Linked DNA regions of Homo sapiens. The protein of the gene in region 1 interacts with the protein of each later gene in a pairwise test. Each region holds a gene or a part of one and is shown in the gene's direction. Other genes may lie near its edges.

What was found.
Region 2: the proteins of MPI (region 1) and HIP1 interact in binary tests that used the Homo sapiens proteins (3 or more experiments, as listed by UniProt).

Annotation. Positions count from the first base shown.
Region 1 is NC_000015.10:74,881,998-74,893,065, forward strand, and holds the start of MPI (mannose-6-phosphate isomerase), read left to right. Parts: upstream 1-8,044; 5' UTR 8,045-8,076; coding exon 8,077-8,092; exon of another isoform or gene 8,093-8,200; coding exon of another isoform or gene 8,201-8,204; intron 8,205-8,440; exon of another isoform or gene 8,441-8,529; coding exon 8,530-8,657; intron 8,658-9,381; coding exon 9,382-9,582; intron 9,583-10,663; coding exon 10,664-10,805; intron 10,806-11,068. UniProt on the Homo sapiens protein: Isomerase that catalyzes the interconversion of fructose-6-P and mannose-6-P and has a critical role in the supply of D-mannose derivatives required for many eukaryotic glycosylation reactions.
Region 2 is NC_000007.14:75,551,764-75,562,911, reverse strand, and holds part of HIP1 (huntingtin-interacting protein 1), read left to right. Parts: intron 1-741; coding exon 742-839; intron 840-1,510; coding exon 1,511-1,583; intron 1,584-2,996; coding exon 2,997-3,180; intron 3,181-4,656; coding exon 4,657-4,745; intron 4,746-5,141; coding exon 5,142-5,258; intron 5,259-6,100; coding exon 6,101-6,202; intron 6,203-6,742; coding exon 6,743-6,886; intron 6,887-7,360; coding exon 7,361-7,496; intron 7,497-8,385; coding exon 8,386-8,472; intron 8,473-8,691; coding exon 8,692-8,799; intron 8,800-9,322; coding exon 9,323-9,459; intron 9,460-11,148. UniProt on the Homo sapiens protein: Plays a role in clathrin-mediated endocytosis and trafficking. Involved in regulating AMPA receptor trafficking in the central nervous system in an NMDA-dependent manner. Regulates presynaptic nerve terminal activity.

The DNA of each region.
Region 1 (11,068 bases):
TTACCGCACCTGGCTGACATATGCCCTTGAGTTGTCTTCCAGAAACCCAGACCCCTAGCAGATGGAAAACACCCACTGCTGTCACATAGACCCCAGATAAGGGGGAACTGAGGACTGAACTCTGGCCTTACCCAGTGTATAACTGAGGCGGGATTTTTCTCAGCCCCTTTGTCAGCCGGAGGTCTTCAGCTGGCGACACCCCTGCCCGGGCCTTGCTCAGGCCTGGGCTTGCTGCAGGAGATGCCCCGTCTACTCAGGTCACTGGGCCACGCCTGGCTTCCACTCCAATGCAGATCCCTGCACTCAGCCCCTGGAGGGAGGAGGTGTGAGCAAGTGTGGAGTCTGACCACCACACCAAGCACAGACACAGGAGTGGGTTCCATGCAGGGCTTGAGGCTGGACCAGGCATGTTGCACTGAGGGGAAAGTGGTGGTATATGAACAGGGATGCCTATGACCCCAAAGCCCCAGAGTGGGTATTACAGCATGCTAATAGCTCTTTTGGTCCCACTGTCTGCAGCCTGATGGACAGCGGCTGATGTGTTAACAGCTCTGTCAGTCCCATTGCCCCATTCCAGCCTATGGCTCCAGTACTGGCTTGGCCCTGCCACTCCTTCCCATCACATGAGGCACCTGACCTCAGCCAGTGGAAGGCAGAGGACCAGTGTTACAGCCTCTTTTTACCTACATTCGGTAGTCCTAAGTTCTTGTCCCGTGTCCAAGAAGAATGAGGTTATGTTGACGATTGAAGGGTGAGGGGGACAAAGAGCTTTACTGAGTGACAAAAGAGATCTCAGTGGAGAGGAGGATGTGAGGGCTTCCCCCACCTGAAGTTGGGTGGTCTCTTACTCGGTGTGGCTGTGTCTGCGGCTTTTATAGGCTCAGAATGGCAGAGTACATGCTGATTGGTTTGTGAGTATGCAAAAAAGGCTAAAACAAAGGCATCACTCAAAGGTGGGCACAACAGTGTAAGAAACCAATTAGGGAAGGGTAGGTATATGTAAAATAGGTGAGGGGTGGGGATCAATCAGAGGAAAGTGCACCAAAGTGGAAGAGAGGTTCTCACTCCAGTCCGTGGATTTACCCAGGACTTGTAGCTTGGCTTTCAGGCTTTAAACTGTCTTTGGTTTGAAGGTTGGTTTTCACCGGGGACCTGTCCCTGTCTGCCTAGGATTTGTCTGCCTCCTGCCACTCTCATAACAATAAAAGTTAGCTGCAGCCAGGTGCGGTGGCTTACACCTGTAATCCCAGCACTTTGGGAGGCTGAGGCCAGTGGACTCCTTGGGCTCAGGAATTTGAGACCAGCTGGGCTACATGGCAAAACCCCGTCTCTATAAAAAATACAAAAATTAGCCAAGTGTGGTGGTGTGTGCCTGCAGTGCCAGCTACTGAGGAGGCTAAGGTGGGAAGATCACTTGAGCTCAGGAGATGGAGGTTGCAGTGAGATGTGACCTTGCCACTGCACTCCATTCTGGGAGACTGTCTCAAAAAAAAATGCTGCTATTATAGCTTGAACCCTCAGCTGGGCACTGGCAGAAATGTGAAGCTGAATTAGACATATAGTCTAGAAGGGAAGAGAGAGAGGAAAGTGTATTGTCACTAGATAATAGAGTGTGATCAGTTCTACTAGAGATTGTTAACCTAAAAAGAAGAGGCTGAGTCACAAAATTAAAGTTACTTGATTCACAGTGAGACAGCTGTCCATAAGACTCATACCCAAGTAACCTTGGATATGAGCTCTGTTAGGCCTTTGTTTCAAGTTTTTTTTTTCTGTTTGTTTGTTTGTTTTTCCGAGATGGAGTCTTGCTCTGTCGCCCAGGCTGGAGTGCAGTGGTGCAATCTCAGCTCACTGAAACCTCTGCCTCCCGGGTTCAAGCGATTCTCCTGCCTCAGCTTCCTGAGTAGCTGGGACTCCAGGCATGCACCACCACGCCCAGCTAATTTTTTTGTATTTTTAGTAGAGACAGGGTTTCACCATGTTGGCCAGGCTAGTCTCACACTCCTGACCTCGTAATCCTCCTGCCTTGGCCTCCCAAAGTGCTGGGATTACAGGCATGAGCCACAGTGCCCAGCCACAAGTATGTTTTTAAAGGTAAAATGCAGGGACAAGGAGTGGGCTGATACAGTCTTTTGTCAGGAATTCTCATTGGTTTACTGAATTAGCACTGATTAGTGATTGGCCATACATTGTTAAGCTGTAGGGTATGGGTTACAGTGTCCATTGTGGTATTATTAGGTTAATTTATACCTAGTTGTGGCAATAGCAAGCAGTTTCAAGAGATAAATAAATAGCTCAAAAGGAAGGAAGTAGAATGTGGTTGCTGTCTCATTTTAATGTTGTTACTGAATTGACCTTGGATCTGCTTTCCTAGTGTGCAGAAAAAGCCAAACACTGGCCAGGCACAGTGGTTCATGCCTATACTCCCAGCACTTTGGGTGGCTGAGACAGGAGGATCACTTGAGGCCAGGAGTTCAAGACCAGCCTGGCCACATAGTGAGACCCAATCTCTTAAAAAATAAGCAGGCGTGATGGCATGTGCCTATAATCTCAGCTACTCAAGAGGCTGAGGTGGGAGGATCACTTGAGTCTTGGAAGTAGAGGCTGCAGTGAGCTGTAACTGTGCCACTGCACTCCAGCCTGGGCAACAGAGCAAGACTCTGTCTCAAAGTAAAAACAAACAAACAAACAAAAAAAAAATGCCAAACAGCGACACCAGGACTTGCAGCAAAAGAAAGTGAGATAATTTATTGCAGGTGCCAAGCAAGGAGAATCAGGCAGCTAATGCTTAAGACCTGAACTCCACAATGGCTTACAAGCAAGGGTTTTTAAAAGAAGGGGCACATTTCAGGAAAGCAAAATTGTAAATCGATACATAGAGGTTACACATTGGTTTGCCCCAAAAAAGTGGGATATCTTGAAGCAGGGGCTCATGTGAATTCAGAGATTCTTTGATTTGTAATTGGCTAAGGAAGCAAGGCTTTGTCTAAAAACTTGGTGTCAGCAGAAAGGAATGCTAAGGTTTGGCCCGTGGGTGTGACTCTCTCCACATCCCTCAGGAATAATTTGGAAAAAAGGATGGTGGTCAGAGTTCAGTCTTCAGTTCCCCCTTATCTGAGGTCAATGTGACAGCAGTGGGCATTTTCCATCTGGTAGGAGTCTGGAATCCCAGCACTTTGGGAGACTGAGGCAGGAGAACAGCTTGAGCCCAGGAGTTCAAGACCAGCCTAGGCAACATAGCAAGAACCTCCCGTCTTTACAAAAAATTTAAAAATTAGTCAGGTGTGGTGGCATGTGCTTATAGTCCTAGCTACTCAGGAGGTTGAGATGAAAGGATAGCTTGAGCCCAGGAGTTCGAGGCTGCAGTAGGCCTGGATGACACAGAGAGAACCCATCTCTGAAAAAAAAAACAAAACCAGAAGACATGTCAAGGTGTTATTTGTTTTTAGAGATGCAGTCTCACTCTGTCACCCAGGCTGGAGTGCAGTGGTACAATCACAGTTCACTGCAGCCTCGACTTTCCAGGCTCAAGCAATCCTCCCACCTCAGCCTCCAGAGTAGCTGGGACTACCGGCATGTGCTACCACCCTCAGCTAATTTTTAAAGTATGTTTAGAGACAGGGTCTTGCTATGTTGCCCAGGCTGGTCTTGAATTCCTGGACACAAGTTATCCTCCGCCTTGGCCTCCCAACGTGTTGGAATTACACGTGTGAGCCACTGCACCTGGCCAAGATATTATTTTCATTTTTTTTTAAATAGTAATGAGATCTTGCTATGTTGGCCAGGTTGGTCTTGAACTCCTGGCCTCAAGCCATCCTTCTACCTCTGCCTCCTAAACTGCTAGGATTACAGGCCTGAGCCACTGCACTCTGTCTTTAGTTGTTGTTTGTTTTTTTGTTTTTTTTTTTATTTTGAGACGGAGCCTTGCTCTGTCGCCCAGGCTGGGGTGCAGTGGCACGATCTCCACTCACTGCCATTCTCCTGCCTCAGCCTCCCGAGTAGCTGGGACTACAGGCGCCTGCCACCACGCCCGGCTAATTTTTTGTATTTTTAGTAGAGACGGGGTTTCATCGTGTTAACCAGGATGGTCTCGATCTCCTGAACTCTATCTCATGATCTGCCCGCCTTGGCCTCCCAAAGTGCTGGGATTACAGGCATGAGCCACCACGCCCAGCCCCTATCTTTAGTTTTTATAGAGAACTAAACATCTTGTGACTCTGGCTTACTTGGGTGGCTGCTTAAGTTACTATTACCTTCTTCCTTGGTGGGTTATTCATTTACTTCCCTAATTGCTGGGTGCAGGGCTAGCTAGTTCCTGAAATCTCCCTTGAAGGGACTCAAAATTTTCCCTTTATCTCCATACTTGCGGGCCAGAGGGGCACCTAAGAAGGGTCTGTCCTCCATATCAATGTCTCTCTGGGCCTGATAATATAAAAGGATGCACATTCCTCAGATAAAATCTCTTTTCTCAAGATAGACCAGCAAGAGGGAAGAAGTAGAAGGTTCTAGGTTCTCCAAACACCCTAGTTTCTCTTACAGATAAGTTTTTCTGTATTGGGGGAGGGTGGCATGGGGTTGGGGGGTGGTCTGTATCTCCCAACAATCTAAGTTCTTCCTTCACTTTGCAGGGATACTATGAGCAAATAACCCTGACTCTGTTTTCTGTGGTAGTGGTAGTGGGGAGTGCTCCAAGAACTCCTTGAGCCTCATTAGTCCCTCGTTCTTATCTGAGAAGGTTCCTATTGCTTGGTGTATTAGTCCGTTTTCATGCTGCTATAAAGATACTACCTGAATTGGGTAATTTATAAAGAAAGGAGGTTTGGGCCAGGCATGGTGGCTCATGCCTGTAACCCAGCACTTTGGGAGGCTGAGGTGGGTGGATCACCTGCAGTCAGGATTTTGAGACCAGCCTGGCCAACATGGTGAAACCCCGTCTCTACTAAAAATACAAAAATTAGCCGGGCATGGTGGCACGTGCCTGTAGTCCCAGCTATTTGGGAGGCTGAGACAGGAGAATCGCTTGAACCCGGGAGGCGGAGGTTGCAGTGAGCCAAGATCGTGCCACTGCACTCTACTCTGGGTGACAGAGTGAGACTCCATCTCAAAAAAAAAAAAAAAAGGAGGTTTGGCCTGACGCGGTGGCTCATGCCTGTAATCTCAGCACTTTGGGAAGTCAAGGCAGGTGGATCACCTGAGGTCAGGAGTTCGAGACCAGCCTGGGCAAAATGGTGAAACCTCGCCTCTACTAAAAATACAAAAATTAGCCGGGCATGGTGGTGTGCACCCAGCTACTTGGGTGGCTGAGGCAGGAGAATCACTTGAACCTGGGAAACAGAGCTTGCAGTGAGCTGAGATCATGCCACTGCACTCCAGCCTGGGCAACGGAGCAAGACTCAATACTCAAAAAGAAAAAATAAAAAAAAAGAAAGGAGGTTTAATTGACTCACAGTTCTACATGGCTGGGGAGGCCTCAGGAGCTTATAATCATGACAGAAGGCAAAGGGGAAGCGAGGCACATCTTAGATGGCAGTAGGAGAGAGAGCGAGAAAGTGCCACACTTTAAAACCATCAGCTCTTGGGAGAACTCACTCACTATCATGAGAACAGCATGGGGGAAACCACCCCCATGATCCAATCACCTCCCACCAGGTCCCTCCCTCAACATGTGGGGATTACAATTCAAGATGAGATTTGGGTGGGGACACAGAGCCAAATCATATCACTTGGGTAGTGGAGATGAGGGAAAGGAGTGGTATTCCAAAGCACGAGGTATTGAGTACGTTGTTTCATGAGTCTTTTTTTTTTTTATTTATTTTTTATTTTTTTATTGATCATTCTTGGGTGTTTCTCGCAGAGGGGGATTTGGCAGGGTCACAGGACAACAGTGGAGGGAAGGTCAGCAGATAAACAAGTGAACAAAGGTCTCTGGTCTTCCTAGGCAGAGGACCCTGCGGCCTTCCGCAGTGTTTGTGTCCCTGGGTACTTGAGATTAGGGAGTGGTGATGACTCTTAACGAGCATGCTGCCTTCAAGCGTCTGTTTAACAAAGCACATCTTGCACCGCCCTTAATCCATTAACCCTGAGTGGACACAGCACATGTTTCAGAGAGCACAGGGTTGGGGGTAAGGTCACCGATCAACAGGATCCCAAGGCAGAAGAATTTTTCTTAGTACAGAACAAAATGAAAAGTCTCCCATGTCTACCTCTTTCTACACAGACACGGCAACCATCCGATTTCTCAATCTTTCCCCCACCTTTCCCCCCTTTCTATTCCACAGAACTGCCATTGTCATCATGGCCCGTTCTCAATGAGCTGTTGGGTACACCTCCCAGACGGGGTGGTGGCCGGGCAGAGGGGCTCCTCACTTCCCAGTAGGGGCGGCCGGGCAGAGGCGCCCCTCACCTCCCGGACGGGGTGGCTGGCCGGGCGGGGGGCTGACCCCCCTACCTCCCTCCCGGACGGGGCAGCTGGCTGGGCAGAGGGGCTCCTCACTTCCCAGTAGGGGCGGCCGGGCAGAGGCGCCCCTCACCTCCCGGACGGGGCGGCTGGCCGGGCTGGGGGCTGACCCCCCCACCTCCCTCCCGGACGGGGCGGCTGGCCAGGCGGGGGGCTGTCATGAGTCTTGTATTATCCATTTTATTATTCCTTAGTGCATGGTAAAGCTTCCTTTAAAATGCAAGCTGATTTATTTGAGCCAGAGGACCCCAGGGGAGGTGAGATAGATACCCACACCTGGGCAGAGGATTACAGGGAAAACGGCACCCGCTCTTTCCCCTGGGCACATATGGTAGAGGCTGTGGGAATGAGGGTATTGCAGGGGTGATGAGGGTAGAGTCAGGACTGTAACTCCTCATTCCAGGTTCCCCGGAGCTTTGACTGTTGTGCTCCTAGCCTCAAGCAATCCTTCTGCCTCTGCCTCCTAAGGTGCTAGGATTACAGGCCTGAGCCACTGACTGTCCTCCTCCTAGGAGGCTGTTGACTGAGAAGGTCTGGATGTCAAAGCCTTTCACCACAGGATATAGCCAAGATTACTGCAGAGCCAAGGCCCAAGGCCATCCTTCCCTATGCACAGCTCTTCGTAATTCCCCTGACTTCTGTGTGTGCAACTTGTAAGCAGCTCAGCCTGGAGTAGAAGTTGGGGTTCTGACTTTCTACAGCACCTGGGACGGGAAGGATCAGAGGAGCACAGGGAGCTGACTGCCTTATAGGTGTCTCACGTCATCCCATCTGACCCTCCAACAAGCATGTCAGGCTGGCATTATTCACCCCATTCTACAAAGCTCAGAGCAGTGAAGGGCCTTGCATGTGACATTTACCATCATCATCACTAGTATGTCCCTACTCACATCACAGCAATTCTTTGCTCAAATCTGTAATTGCTGAGACTCGAAGTAAAACCCAAAGTCTTCACAATAGCAATAGCCTGCAAAGCTCTGCCCCCCTCCTCTCTTCTCTGACCTCCTCACTGCCCCTGTCTTACTCACTCTGCTCCAGCCACAGTGGCCTCCTTGCTAGCAGTTCCCTCCCCAACACGCCCGGCACAGTCCCACATTCCCGCCTTGCTCTGGCTTCCGCTGTGGCTGTTTCCTCCCCGCAGAACACTCCTGCCTTCCTCACCGCCAAGTCTGGACTCAAACCTCACCTCCTCAAGAGGCTTGCCCAGACAGCCTTTTATATTCTGCAAACTGCCTCCCACTGCCACCTGCCCCCTTACTTTTTGTGGCCTTGACCTTTCAACATACTACATGATTTGCTTACAATACTTGTCTGTCTTGCCTTCACCAGAATGTAAGCGCTCTACAAAGGCAGAGGGAAGGCTATCTTGCTCTCTGATGTATCCTCCAGCCCTTAGAACAGTCCGTGGTACTTAGCAGGTTTTCAGTACATCTGTGCCCGGCGATGGAAAGAATGAATGAATAGTGAGACCGAAGATCGCGGCCGTAAGCCTCTGGGCACGGGTGCCCCGGGGCCTGGCGGAACGCTCAGGGAACTACATTTCCCGTGAAGCTCTGGGCGCAGAGGGCCGCGGGGGCTGCCGGGAAAGGCATACGTGCTTAATCCTGGTGCAGGGGGCGAGCATGGCCGCTCCGCGAGGTGAGCCATTGGCTGGGGTGTCGGCGAGTGTGTTCGTGGAGCGCGTCCTGGGGACGACTCCCGGCATTATCGGCCAGGTTGAGTCCGCTCCTGGCATTCCGCGGAAAGATGGGTGGGTGCCGGGCAGAGGTGTGGCCACCTGCGATGGGGATTGACCTCCGAGGGGAGGGGGCCCTTCTAGACGTCGTGCCGTGGGATAGGTACCTTCTGCTCCCTCCCCGCCACCCTGCCTCAGATCAGCACAAGGTCCTTACTGCTGCCCATCTGACAGTTGGGAACATCGAGGCCTGCAGCGGAGGGGGGTCTCATCCAACAGCCTACAAAACCCTTATTTGACTCTGTCCCCAGTGAGCACCCCCAGCTCTTGCCTGGTTTCCCGGGACACTAGGGTGGGGCCTGAGGAGTGGAGTGGCAGCTGACCCTGTCTGTGCCCCTAGTATTCCCACTTTCCTGTGCGGTGCAGCAGTATGCCTGGGGGAAGATGGGTTCCAACAGCGAAGTGGCGCGGCTGTTGGCCAGCAGTGATCCACTGGCCCAGATCGCAGAGGACAAGCCTTATGCAGAGGTGAGCCCCGGGCTGTATTTCAGCCCACTTTACCCGCAGGTCAGGAGAAAGGGCCTGAGGCAAGTCATAAGAATCAGCTGGGAAGGGTGAGGCAGCAAGGAGGGAGGAGACCCACTTGGCTCTTCAGGCTAATGGACTAGATAGTGTTATCAAAAAGAAGAGAGGTTTTGTCATAATAGGCTGGGATTTCCAGCACTCTCCTTCCCCCAACCACTCTTAGCACTTAGTGAATTTTAATTCAGCCCTCTTTGACAATTAAGTTTTTTTACTTTGACTATTTTTTTGCATTTTTATTAACCTAAAATATTTCTCCTGCCTATTTAGTGGAGAAAAAGCCAAAGCATAGGAAGGCTTTCGCCTCTGCTTCTGAAACTGGAAGATGTATGTTAACCCCTGAAAGAATCATTTAAGAGTCATAGTTTTTCTGCTACCTTGACAGTGCAGATGTCATTCTCCTCTTTGGACAGACAAAGAAGATACATCTAAAGAAGGGAAATAACTAGTCCAAGTCTTCATAGATGGCTAGAGGCCGAGTCTGGACAAGGGCCTGGGTCTACTGCCTCCCTGTATGTCCATGATGGCATGAACATTTGTATCCAGACCTGGGAGGCCTTTCCCAGGACTCAGTTGCCCTGTGGGGAGCACAGCATAACGGATTGGGACAGGCCAACTCAGGGTGGCAGGTTTCTTCCCCCTTCCCCTCCCAAGTTTCCTGTCTTTCCAGTTGTGGATGGGGACTCACCCCCGAGGGGATGCCAAGATCCTTGACAACCGCATCTCACAGAAGACCCTAAGCCAGTGGATTGCTGAGAACCAGGACAGCTTGGGCTCAAAGGTCAAGGACACCTTTAATGGCAACCTGCCCTTCCTCTTCAAAGTGCTCTCAGTTGAAACACCCCTGTCCATCCAGGCACACCCTAACAAGGTAAAGGACAGAGTGCGGTGCAGAGGTCAGGGTACAGAAGGGCTTATGCTAAGGCCCTCCCGTGACTTTTACTGCCACTTTTACCCCACCCATGCCAGGCTCCTGCCCAAGGCCAAATCCAGGCTGACAACTCCCAATTTAGCTCTGCAAAGCCAGATGGTAGTGACACATGCAGCAACTAAGTCTAAGCAAACAGCTCACCGGCCTGTGCCAGGGGAGTTTCTCTAAGCTCATTCCAAGGGGCTTGTTCCTGGTCTTCCCTCATCCAACCCATGTCTATTCATATCTGCCATTTACTCATCTGCTTTCAGGAAGAGTTCAACTTGCAAGGCAGGGCAGGTACCCTCAGCCCCACCCCCATGGAGTCTCCCTACACAAGCCGGAGTCCCATCCTAAGCAACTGTGGATCAAAACTCCTTTTTTTTTTTTTCTGAGACTTGAGTCTTGCTCTGTCGCCCAGGCTGGAGTGCAGTGGCGCGATCTCGGCTCACTGCAACCTCCTCCTCCCAATTCAAGCAATTCTTCTGCTTCAGCCTCGCAAATAGCTGGGACTACAGGCACGCGCCACCACACCCAGCTAATTTTTGTATTTTTAGTAGAGATGGGGTTTCACCATGTTGGCCAGGCTGGTCTTGAACTCCTGCCCTCGTAATCCGCTCGCCTCAGCCTCCCAAAGTGCTGGGATTACAGGCGTGAGCCACCATGCCCAGCCAAAACTCCTTATTTCTAGATACACAAAGTAAGACCCAGAGAAGGGAGGGATTTACCAAAGCCACACAGCTTGTTAGTGTCAGAGCTTGGTCTGGTATTTGGGTTTCCTGATTCACAGGCCAAGCCTCTTAAAGTCTGCCCCAGCTTTTCCCTGATTTGCCCCGGGGTTGCCCCTGATTTGCCCCTGCCCTGGGTTGGCTGAGCCCCAAGTTTCTGCAACATGCTTTGACTGGGCTCCTTGCCAGAGGTAGGTAGTCACTGCCATCCTGCAACTGGGGAGGGTGGACAGCAGGGGCTAGGTGGCACTGGTGTACCTGCTAGGTAATGGCTGTACCCTCACCATCCTCCTCTTCCCCTGGCCACCCCACAGGAGCTGGCAGAGAAGCTGCACCTCCAGGCTCCGCAGCACTACCCCGATGCCAACCACAAGCCAGAGATGGCCATTGCCCTCACCCCCTTCCAGGGCTTGTGTGGCTTCCGGCCAGTTGAGGAGATTGTAACCTTTCTAAAGAGTAAGTTGGGCAGAATGCTGAAGGCATGCGTACTGGGCCAGGGATACCTGGGGAACCAAGATGATAGGAACAGTGGCTGAGAACGGGTCACATGTCACAGGAACTGAAGGGCCTCATGAAGCAGTTTTTGGAGCCAGTGAGCCAGGCCAGTGAGACCAGGCTCAGGTGTGGTAGTCAAGGGCTGGTGGTGAGTGATTGGTTTCCACTGCAAAGTTTACTTAGCATTGCCGGCTCTTTGGTTAGGGCTGGGATGGAAAGGTGTC
Region 2 (11,148 bases), on another chromosome or scaffold:
CTTGGCCTTTCCTCTCACCTGCAAGTACAGGGGAGAGGCTGGGGGAGACCCTGGCCAAAGCCCATTGACTCTAACCAGGTTCAGGCTTCTCTTCATTCACCTAGCACCAACCTAGGCTGAGCATCCTGCTCTGTGGCTCCCAGAAGGGTCATAAATGGGTGCAGTGGCTCACAGCTGTAATCCCAACACTTTGCAAGGCCAAGGTGGGAAGACTGCTTGAGGCCAGTTCAAGACCAGCCTGGGCAACATAGTAAGGCCCCATCTTTACAAAATTAGCCAGATGTGGTGGCACATACCTGTGGTCCCAGCTATGTGGGAAGCTGAGATGGGAGGATCACTTGAGCCTGGGAGGCCAAGGCTACAGTGAGCTGTTATCATGCCACTGCACTCCAGCCTAGGCAAGAGAACAAGAACCAGGCCCTAAAAATATAAATACATAAAATTAAAATAAAAAAATTATCCAGGTATGGTGGCACACACCTATACTTCCAGCTACTCAGGAGGCTGAAACAGGAGGATCACTTGAGCCAGGAGTTGGAGGCTGCAGTGAGCTATGATTGCACCACTGTACTCTAGCCTGGGCAGTAGAGCGAGAACCTGTCTCAAAAAAATTAAAAAAATTAAACAGGTCTGAACCGTTTAATTCGAGAAAGGGGGCATTCTCCCATATCACTCAACTGACCCACACACAGAATTCTCTGGCTCTCTGACTTATTCTCACTCCTTTTTGGTCAACCACAGAATTTATTTGACAACAAGTTTGATGACATCTTTGGCAGTTCATTCAGCAGTGATCCCTTCAATTTCAACAGTCAAAATGGTGTGAACAAGGATGAGAAGTGAGTCCAAGCTGGGTTCAAGCAGATGGTTCAGGAGCTAAGTTAAGCCATGGTCTGCCTCAAAACACTAACCAAAGAGGAATTCTTAATGATACTGGGGCTTCTTAGATACAGAACATCTTGAAGGGTTGGGGGCAATGGCTTATGCCTGTAATCCCAACATGTGGGGAGGATGAGGTAGGAGGATTTTTTAAGGCCAGGAGTTTAAGACCAAGCTTGGGCAACATAGCAAGATCCCATCTTTATTAAATAAAAGTAAAAAAATTAGCTGGGCAGGTGGTACACACCTGTAGTCCCAGTAACTCAGGAGGCTGAAGTGGGAAGATCATTTGAGCCTGGGATATCAAGGCTGCAGTGAGCTATGATCGTGCCACTACACTTCAGCCTGGGCGACAAAGCCAGACTGTCTCTAAAACAAAACCGAAAACACACACAAAAAAGGAATGTCTTGACCCTCAAATATTGGCCCCTTTAATCTCAGAAGAAAATCAATAACCATGGATTTATGAGTATTAGATTAGTATCTGGTAACATTTAGAGTATAATTTATGGCATTTCAAAGAATTGTCCCCAAATTAATACCAGCTTTTAATTTCCTCCCCTGAGCTCACAATTAAAAACAGAGGGATAGAAGCACTATGAAAGCAAACTCATTCCCCTTCTCTTCCCAGGGACCACTTAATTGAGCGACTATACAGAGAGATCAGTGGATTGAAGGCACAGCTAGAAAACATGAAGACTGAGGTATAACTTGGATCTGCTCTGCCTTTGCGCTTCACCAAAACACGGTAGATTTGAATGTTAAATTTGCATCACACTAGCCAGGCACAGTGGCTCACACCTGTAATCCTAGCACTTTGGGAGGCCAAGGCAGGAGGATTACCTGAGGTCGGGAGTTCGAGACCAGCCTGGGCAACAGGGTGAAACCCCCGTCTTCAATAAAAATGCAATAATTAGCCGGGTGTGTTGGCAGGCACCTGTAATCCCAGCTACTCGGGAAGCTGAGGCATGAGAATTGCTTGAACTTGGGAGGCAGAGGTTGCAGTGAACTGAGATCGTGTCACTGCACTCCAGCCTGGGCGATAGAACAAGACTCTGTCTCAAAAAAAAAAAAAAAAATTGCATCACCTAGACAGTTTTTGGACCACATCCTTAGGGTAGGTTAATTAGTAGAAACAAGCCAGGCGTGGTGGTGTGCACCTGTGATCCCAGCTACTCAGGAGGCTGAGGTAGGAGGATCACTCAAGCCCAGGAGTTTTGAATCCAGCCTGGGCAACATAGCGAGACCTGTGTCTCTAAAACCAAATAAAAACTGGTAGAAATGCTAAATCCAAAAGAACCAGGTCTTCCCGTGTTCTCTGTCATAATGCATTTCCATTTTACATGCCATGAGGACAGCATTTAGGCCAGGCACAGTATCCATGTGATTGATACCCAGAGATGACCTTGGTCCCCACGAGGCTGAGAAGCTGTGGAGAACAAGACCAGACCTTCTCACATGGCGATAAGGAGAGATTGGTTTGCCGGGCACAGTGGCTCACGCCTGTAACCCCAGCACTTTGGAAGGCTCAGGCAGAAGGATCACTTGAGCCCAGCAGTTCAAGACTAGCTTGGGCAACATAGCAAGACCCCATCTCTACAAAAAACTTTTTAAAAATTAGCTGGGCATGGTGGTGCATACCTGTAATGCCAGCTACTTGGGAGGCTGAAGCTAGAGGATCTCTTGAGCCTAGGAGGTTGAGGCTGCAGTGAGCCATAATCACCTCACTGCACTCCAGTCTAGGTGATAGTGATACCCTGTCCCTCCCCTCCCCCAACCGCCAAAAAAAAAAGAGAAGAGACAGCTGTGAGCAATGTTGGTGCTATATTAACAACCGCCCCTCACAGTGGCTGGTCAGGTGACTTCACCCACAGGGACAGCCACTGCTACCCCCAGCCACTCTAAAGAGGACCACAATTCCCCGGCCATCATCCCCTGTTATTGTTGTTGATTGAGGGGCTCCTAATGACCAGATGGTCCAACCCTCCTGGGACGTGGAGAGTTGACTTAGGGGAATCAGGTATTTACTTGGAAGCATGGTAGGACCCGCTTCTCCGGCCCATGCCCGTGACCCGTGGCAGTGGGCGGTTGGCCTCATGACCGGAGTCCCCCCACAGAGCCAGCGGGTTGTGCTGCAGCTGAAGGGCCACGTCAGCGAGCTGGAAGCAGATCTGGCCGAGCAGCAGCACCTGCGGCAGCAGGCGGCCGACGACTGTGAATTCCTGCGGGCAGAACTGGACGAGCTCAGGAGGCAGCGGGAGGACACCGAGAAGGCTCAGCGGAGCCTGTCTGAGATAGAAAGTGAGCGGTGGGTGGGGGCGGGGGCGGGCCCCGGGGGCAGGCGCGGGCAGCAGAGCCCAGCTGGACTCAGGATGCGGCACAGAGGCTGGGTGGGGGAGACCCAGACTGTCTTTCTAGAAACAGCTAGGAATGCCAGCTCTTAGCCTCAGTCCAGAGGGCGGGTTTGAGTCCTGCAGGCACAAAGCTGTGTGCGAGGCACCGCTGAGCACAGAGATGGGAAATACAGAAGACAGCACTGAAGTGCTTGCCCTGGGCAGTGGATACTAAGGGAGAAGGAGAGAGGATTGAGGTCCTAACAAAGAAATTGACATAAAAGCTGAGGGCACAGTGGCACATGCCTGTAATCCTAGCACTCTGGGAGGCCAGGATGGAAGGACTGCTTGAGGCCAGGAGTTCAAGACCAACCCGGGCAACATAGCAAGACCCCATCTCTAGAAAAAATAAAAAAGACTAGCCGGGCATGGTGGCACGTGCCTGTAGTCCCAGCTACTCTTGAGGCTGAGACAGGAGGATCGCTTGAGCCCAGGAATTCAAGGCTGCAGTGAGCTGATTGCACCACTGCACTCCGGCCTCTGCAACAGAGAGCCTTGTCTCTAAAAAATTTCAAATAAATTTGTTAAAAAGCTGAAAGCCCCCATAGAATAAATGCCATGTATGTAAGTGCTGAAGAGGCATGAATCCCTGGCTTGATTATTTATTTGTTTTATTTTTTTGAGGTGGAGTCTCACTCTGTCGCCCAGGCTGGAATGCAGTGGTGTGATCTGGGCTCACTGCAACCTCTACCTCCCAGGTTTAAGGGATTGTCCTGCCTCAGCCTCCCGAGTAGCTGGGATTACAGGCACACACCACCATGTCCAGCTGATTTTTGTATTTATAGTAGAGATGGGGTTTCACCATGTTGGTCAGGCTGGTCTTGAACTCCTGACCTCAGGTGATCCACCCACCTTGGCCTCCCAAAGTGCTGGGATTATAGGCATGAGCCACCTCGCTTGGCCCCTGGCTTGATTTTTAACTAGTTGAATTCTTTTTAAAGATGACTTCCTGGAGAAGTTTCTGTAAGTAGGACTTTCAAGGGAGAAAAGCATATATGCATTCCTAAATCAAAGGAAGATCTTTGGCCGGGCACAGTGGCTCATGCCTATAATCCCACTGAGATGGGAGGATCACCTGAGCCCAGGAGTTTGAAACCAGCCTGGAAAACATAGTGAGACCCTGTCTCTACAAAAATTAGCCGGGTGTGGTGGCGTGTGCCCATGAACCCAGCTACTCAGGAGACTGGGGTGGGAGGATGACTTGAGCCCAAGGAGGTCAAGGCTGCAGTGAACAGTGATTGTGCCACTGCACCCCAGCCTGGGTGACAGAGCAAGACTGTCTCAAAACAAAACAAGGAGGACCTTCTAGGGACCCTGGCTCATTGCAAGGAAGGCAAGGGTCCCTGCTAGGTTAGACTCCTCACCTTGGTCCTTTACAATACAGGGAAAGCTCAAGCCAATGAACAGCGATATAGCAAGCTAAAGGAGAAGTACAGCGAGCTGGTTCAGAACCACGCTGACCTGCTGCGGAAGGTAAGACCCTCAGCCCCTGTCACCATCCTGCAGGCCCTGCACCTCTAGGGAGAGAGCGGCTCAGGCCTGTGGCTTCCCCGGGGCCAGCAACCCCTACATTGATCTCTAAGGCATTGCCGTCATCTCGGGAACCACACCTTTTCAGGCTTCCTTGCCTCTGTGTCTTGGGCTGTGTCCTGGGTGCCAATCCCATGTAGGTCACCCACCTTCTTTATTATTTTGTAAATATTTGAGCATCAAGCATCTGAAGGTGATGGCTCTGTTCCGGCTGTGGGTAGGAAAGTGATTCCTGTGTCTGACTCTAGGGCACGCACAGCCTGAGTATGATTGTCCTAGAAGGAGGATGTCCTCTAAGCCTGGGATCTCCTGGTTCAAGACACTGTTCTTCTTTTGCAGAATGCAGAGGTGACCAAACAGGTGTCCATGGCCAGACAAGCCCAGGTAGATTTGGAACGAGAGAAAAAAGAGCTGGAGGATTCGTTGGAGCGCATCAGTGACCAGGGCCAGCGGAAGGTGAGTGGGACGAGGAGCACTCGGGAAATGAGGGAGGGGGCTGTTGAGTTGGTGGCGGGGGCTTTGTGGCCTTCTGCTCCATGGGCAGTTCTGTGGGTCGGTTGGCATCACACAGCAGGGAGCACACCATGGTGGCCACACAGAACAGCAAAACACCGTCACCAGTGCATACACGAAGTAATGGAAGGACCCAAGTTGCCTGGGGTTAATCAACAAAGGCTTTCCAAGGATGAGGCTGGTGGAGAGTTTGAGGAAAGGAAAACACATGGGTGGCAGAGAGAGAGGGATGAGCGTTTTTTTTTGTTTGTTTGTTTTGTTTGTTTGTTTTTTGAGACGGCAGTAATCCCAGGACTTTGGGAGGCTGAGGGGGGTGTGGATCACCAAGTCAGGAGTTCGAGACCAGCCTGGCCAATATGGTGAAACCCCATCTCTACTAAAAATACAAAAGTTAGCCAGGTGTGATGGCGTGTGCCCGTAGTCCCAGCTGCTTGGGAGGCTGAGGCACAAGAATCTCTTGAACCTTGGAGGTGGAGGTTGCAGTGAGCTGAGACTGCACCACTGCACTCCAGCCTGGGCAACAACAGCGAGACTCCGTCTCAAAAATAAATAAATAAATAAATAAATAAATAAATAATAAAAAATCCTTCCTTGACATTCCACATTTTCAGTACACTCTGGGGTCTTGCCTCCTCCTCCCACACCCTGCACTTTTTTGGGGGGGTGTAACTTACATACAGTAGAGTTTACAGATCTCTTGTTGATCGCTTGGGACGTTTTTACATTTTTATATTCTTTGTCACTGTCACCCAGATCAGAGTCCCTCTGTTTTTCTTCTCTTTCAGACTCAAGAACAGCTGGAAGTTCTAGAGAGCTTGAAGCAGGAACTTGCCACAAGCCAACGGGAGCTTCAGGTTCTGCAAGGCAGCCTGGAAACTTCTGCCCAGGTAAATACCTCCTTTTTTTTTTTGGAGATAGAGTCTTCTTCTGTCACTCAGGTTGGAATGCAGTGGTGCGATCGCAGCTCACTGCAGCCTCCACCTCCCTGGGCTCAGGTGATCCTCCCCACTTAGCCCCCCGAGTAACTGGGACTACAGGCACACACCCCTACACCTGGCTAGTTTTTGTATTTTCTTTGGTAGAGACGGGGTTTCACTATGTTGCCCAGGCTGGTCTCGAACTCCAGGGCTCAAGTGATCCTCCCACCTCAGCCTCCTAAAGTGCTGGGATTACAGACATGAGCCTTCATGCCCGGCCTCCTTTCTTGCCCCACCCCTGGCTTTGGCGTTGCTGTCATCCACCATCCTTGGCCTGGCCAAGTCAGCCCCCACTGCAATCAGTGTGTCCCCGGGAGGGAATCAGAGTGGCAGGTTAAAGAGCCATCACCTTCCCAGTCCTTGCAACCCGGTGGTGGGTTGGACCTCTGGGAAGTAGGGACTGTTTAACTCAACCAGCGTCTCCCTCTTTCCTTGTGGTCACCTTTGCAGTCAGAAGCAAACTGGGCAGCCGAGTTCGCCGAGCTAGAGAAGGAGCGGGACAGCCTGGTGAGTGGCGCAGCTCATAGGGAGGAGGAATTATCTGCTCTTCGGAAAGAACTGCAGGACACTCAGCTCAAACTGGCCAGCACAGAGGCAAGTCACGGACATGGACACGAGCGAGCACCTGTGAATTCCCACCGAGGGCCTCTGCGCATGCACGGAGGCTGGGAGGACCCCGGGGCTGCTGAGAAGGGGTTTGGGGCCTTGGCCTGATTGTGCAGACATTCTGTAGGTGTAATGCCAGCAGGCCCTGCATTGCCTGCAGAGTCCATGAGGGAAAGCAAACTGCTGTCTTTTTTGTATGAGAAGAGAAGTTTGGCATCTCCTCCCAGCCATGAGAAGCGGGCGCAGTGATCCATCCCCACAGCCTCTGTGGGCAGCCGCACATCGTGGGCAGCCGCACATCCTGTGCACACAGTTAAAGCGCCTTTCTCTGTCTCAGGCTTACTGGCTTGGACCTCATTGGCCATGACTTGAGCTAAGATGCTAAGAGCCCCAGCCAGGTCATCCTGCTCAGGTTCATTATGGAGTCTAGGGCAGACTCTCACCTCCCTGGACCATTTTTAGGAATCTATGTGCCAGCTTGCCAAAGACCAACGAAAAATGCTTCTGGTGGGGTCCAGGAAGGCTGCGGAGCAGGTGATACAAGACGCCCTGAACCAGCTTGAAGAACCTCCTCTCATCAGCTGCGCTGGGTCTGCAGGTACACTTGCAATTGCCCAGCTGGCAGGGGCCAGGTCCTTACAGCCTGAGACTCTGTTGATGTTGAATCTCATGTGAGACTTAGCTCAGGGGCTCTCAGCCCAGCAGCATGTCAGCATTACCTTAGGGGCGCCCAGGCCCCATCCTAGATCAGTTACATGTGGAAACTCTGTGCATTAGTGCCTATACACTAGTATTTTAGTATTTTCTTCCCCCCCCCCGCCCCCCCGCTTTTTGAGATAGGGTCTTACTCTGTTGCTCAGGCTAGAGTGCAGTGCCGTGGCTCACTGCAACCTCCGCTTCCTGGGCTCACACAATCCTCCCCACTCATTCTCCCAAGTAGCTGGGACTACAGGCACGCAACACCACGCCCAGCTAATTTTTGGTTTCGGTTTGTTGCTCAGACTGGTCTTGAAGACCTGGGCTCAGGCTATCCACCCACCTTGGCCTCCCAAAGTGCTGGGATTACAGGCATGAGCCACCATGCCTGGCCTTGGCTAATTTTTTAATTTTTGGTAGAGACGAGGTCTCACTCTATTGCCCAGGATGGTCCCAAACTTCTGAACTCCCACCTTGGCCTCTCAAAGTGCTGGAATTACAGGCATGAGACACCACGCCAGGCCCAGCAGTAGTATTTTCTAAAGCCCCCAGGTGTGATAGCTACTGCTTTAGACAGTGGGTCACACTGATAAAACACCCACCAGGAGCAGACAATTCTGTTTCTCTAAGGAAAAAACTATGGTCTGAATCAAGAGGTGATTACTCATGAACTTCACGTCTAGGCAGGAAGCTTACCCACTAGGTAAGCTCCTCCATTCAGTGCTTAATTAACGAGGATGAAGCCAGCTATGAGAACTTGCTCTGACCTTGCCCTGTGTTCCCTCTCACAGATCACCTCCTCTCCACGGTCACATCCATTTCCAGCTGCATCGAGCAACTGGAGAAAAGCTGGAGCCAGTATCTGGCCTGCCCAGAAGGTAAGAATGGCCAAGGACAGTCTCTGTCGGCTAGTGATGGCCAGACAGGGTTCAGAAGCACCTGAATGCGGGGATAGTGACAGGTCCCTCTGCATCAAGAAAGGCATGTAGGCAACTCATACAAGAAAGGCATGTAGGCAACTCATAAAACGGGAGGAGAGGGTATGAAAGTGTCACCATCAACCAGACCTGAGAAACTTCTCTTTCCAATCCTGGCAGACATCAGTGGACTTCTCCATTCCATAACCCTGCTGGCCCACTTGACCAGCGACGCCATTGCTCATGGTGCCACCACCTGCCTCAGAGCCCCACCTGAGCCTGCCGACTGTGAGTACCGGGGCATGAGGGGCTGTTCATGGACCAGGGGAGCAGGGGGCCTTTAAAAGTCTCTGTTGGGCCGGGCGCAGTGGCTCATGCCTGTAACTCCAGCACTTTGGGAGGCTGAGGCGGGCAGATCACTTGAGGTCGGGAGTTCAAGAACAGCCTGGCCAACATGGCAAAACCCCATCTCTACTAAAGATACAAAAACGATGGGCCAGATGCAATGGTTCACGCCTGTAATCGCCGTAACACTTTGGGAGGACGAGGTGGGCAGATCACCTGAGGTCAGGAGTTCGAGACCAGCCTGGCCAACATGGCGAAACCCCGTCTCTACTAAAAATACAAAAATTAGCCGGGCATGGTGGCGCACCCGTAATCCCAGCTACTTGGGAGGCCGAGGCAGGAGAATCGCTTGAACTCAGGAGGCGGAGTTTGCAGTGAGCCGAGATGGCGCCACTGCACTCCAGCCTGGGCAACAAGAGCGAGACTCCATCTCAAAAAAAAAGTGTCTATTGCCTTGTATCTCCAGCACTGACCGAGGCCTGTAAGCAGTATGGCAGGGAAACCCTCGCCTACCTGGCCTCCCTGGAGGAAGAGGGAAGCCTTGAGAATGCCGACAGCACAGCCATGAGGAACTGCCTGAGCAAGATCAAGGCCATCGGCGAGGTACTTGGAGTAGTATCATTGAGGAGCATTGTTATTCTTCTGGGTGTGCGTGCTGGTGAATGGCCAGGGAATCGGTGATGTTCTGAGCTAGTTCTTTCTGCACTTAGAACTTGATTCTAGAAAGAGATTGTTAAAATTGGAAAATCTGGCCGGGTGCAGTGATTTATGCGTGTAATCCCAGCACTTTGGGAGGCCGAGTCAGGAGGATCACTTGAGGCTAGACGGGATGGCTCACGCCTGTAATCCCAGCACTTTGGGAGGCTGAGGTGGGCAGATCACTTGAGGTCAAGAGCTAGAGACCAGCCTGGCCAACAGGGTGAAACCCTGTCTCTACTAAAAATACAAAAATCAACCCAGCATAGTGGTGCATGCCTATAATCCCAGGTACTGGGAGGTGGAGTCAAGAGAATTGCTTGAACCCAGGAGGTGGAGGTTGCAGTGCACCGAGATCATGCCATTGCACTCCAGCCTGGGCATAAGAGTGAGATCTATCTCGAAAAAAAAAAGGATCACTTGATCCCAGAAGTTTGAGACAGGCCTAGGCAACAAAATGAGACCCTGTCTCTTTAAAAATTAAAAAAAAAAAAATTTAAAAAGGAAAAACCTCCTGAAGGACTTTCCAGCTATATTTAATTCACTGGCTGTTAGCTGAGAATCTACTATGTTGTCATCATTACACTAGGCAATATCAAAGAAGTATAGGCAGCTCCCCTGTCTCTGAGGATTTTTATCTAGGTGGGCAGGTAATACCCAAAATGGAAATAACACTGTGTTCATTCATTTACTAAAGATGTAGTGCCGAGCATGGTGGCTCACACCTGTAATCCCTGCACTTTGGGAGGCCGAGGCAGGAGGATCACTTGAGGCCAGGAGTTCAATATCAGCCTAGGCAACATAGTGAGACCCTGTCTCTACAAAATAAAATTTTTTTTTTAATTAGACAGGTGTGATGTCACGCACCTGTAGTCCCAGCTACTCGGGAGGCTGAGGCAGGAGGATCGCTTGAGCCCAGGATTTGGAGGCCACAGTGAGCTATGATTGTGCCACTGCACTCCAGCCTAGGCAACAGAGTGAGACCCTGCCTCTGCTATAAATAAATATGTCCTGTATACCAGAAATTGGGTTAAGTATATATAGGGACAGAGAAGACATGGACTCTATGGAAAAGAAAAATAAGAAAACCATTTCTATGCAGTACAGTTTTTTTTCATTTTTTCCCCAGTGTTATGAATTGGAATATATTGGTTAAGATACAAGGATAGGGCCAGGCACGGTGGCTCACGCCTGTAATCCCAACATTTTGGGAGGCCGAGGCAGGTGGATCACCTGAGGTCAGGAGTTCTAGACCAGCCTGGCCAACATGGCAAAACCCCATCTCTACTAAAAGTACAAAAAATTAGCCAGGCGTGATGGTAGGCGCCTGTAATCCCAGCTACTTAGGAGGCTGAGGCAGGAGAATCACTTGAACCTGGGAGGCTGAGGTTGCAGTGAGCTAAGATCGTGCCTTTGCACTCCAACCTGGGCAACAGGAGCGAAACTCCACTCAAAAAATAAATAAAAAATAAAAGCCATGAGGATAGACTGTCTAATTGGAGTTCCAGAAGAAGATAATAAAAAGACCACATCCAGCCAAGGTGGGTGGATCAATTGAGGCCAGGAATTTGAGACCAGCCTGGGCAACTTAGTGGC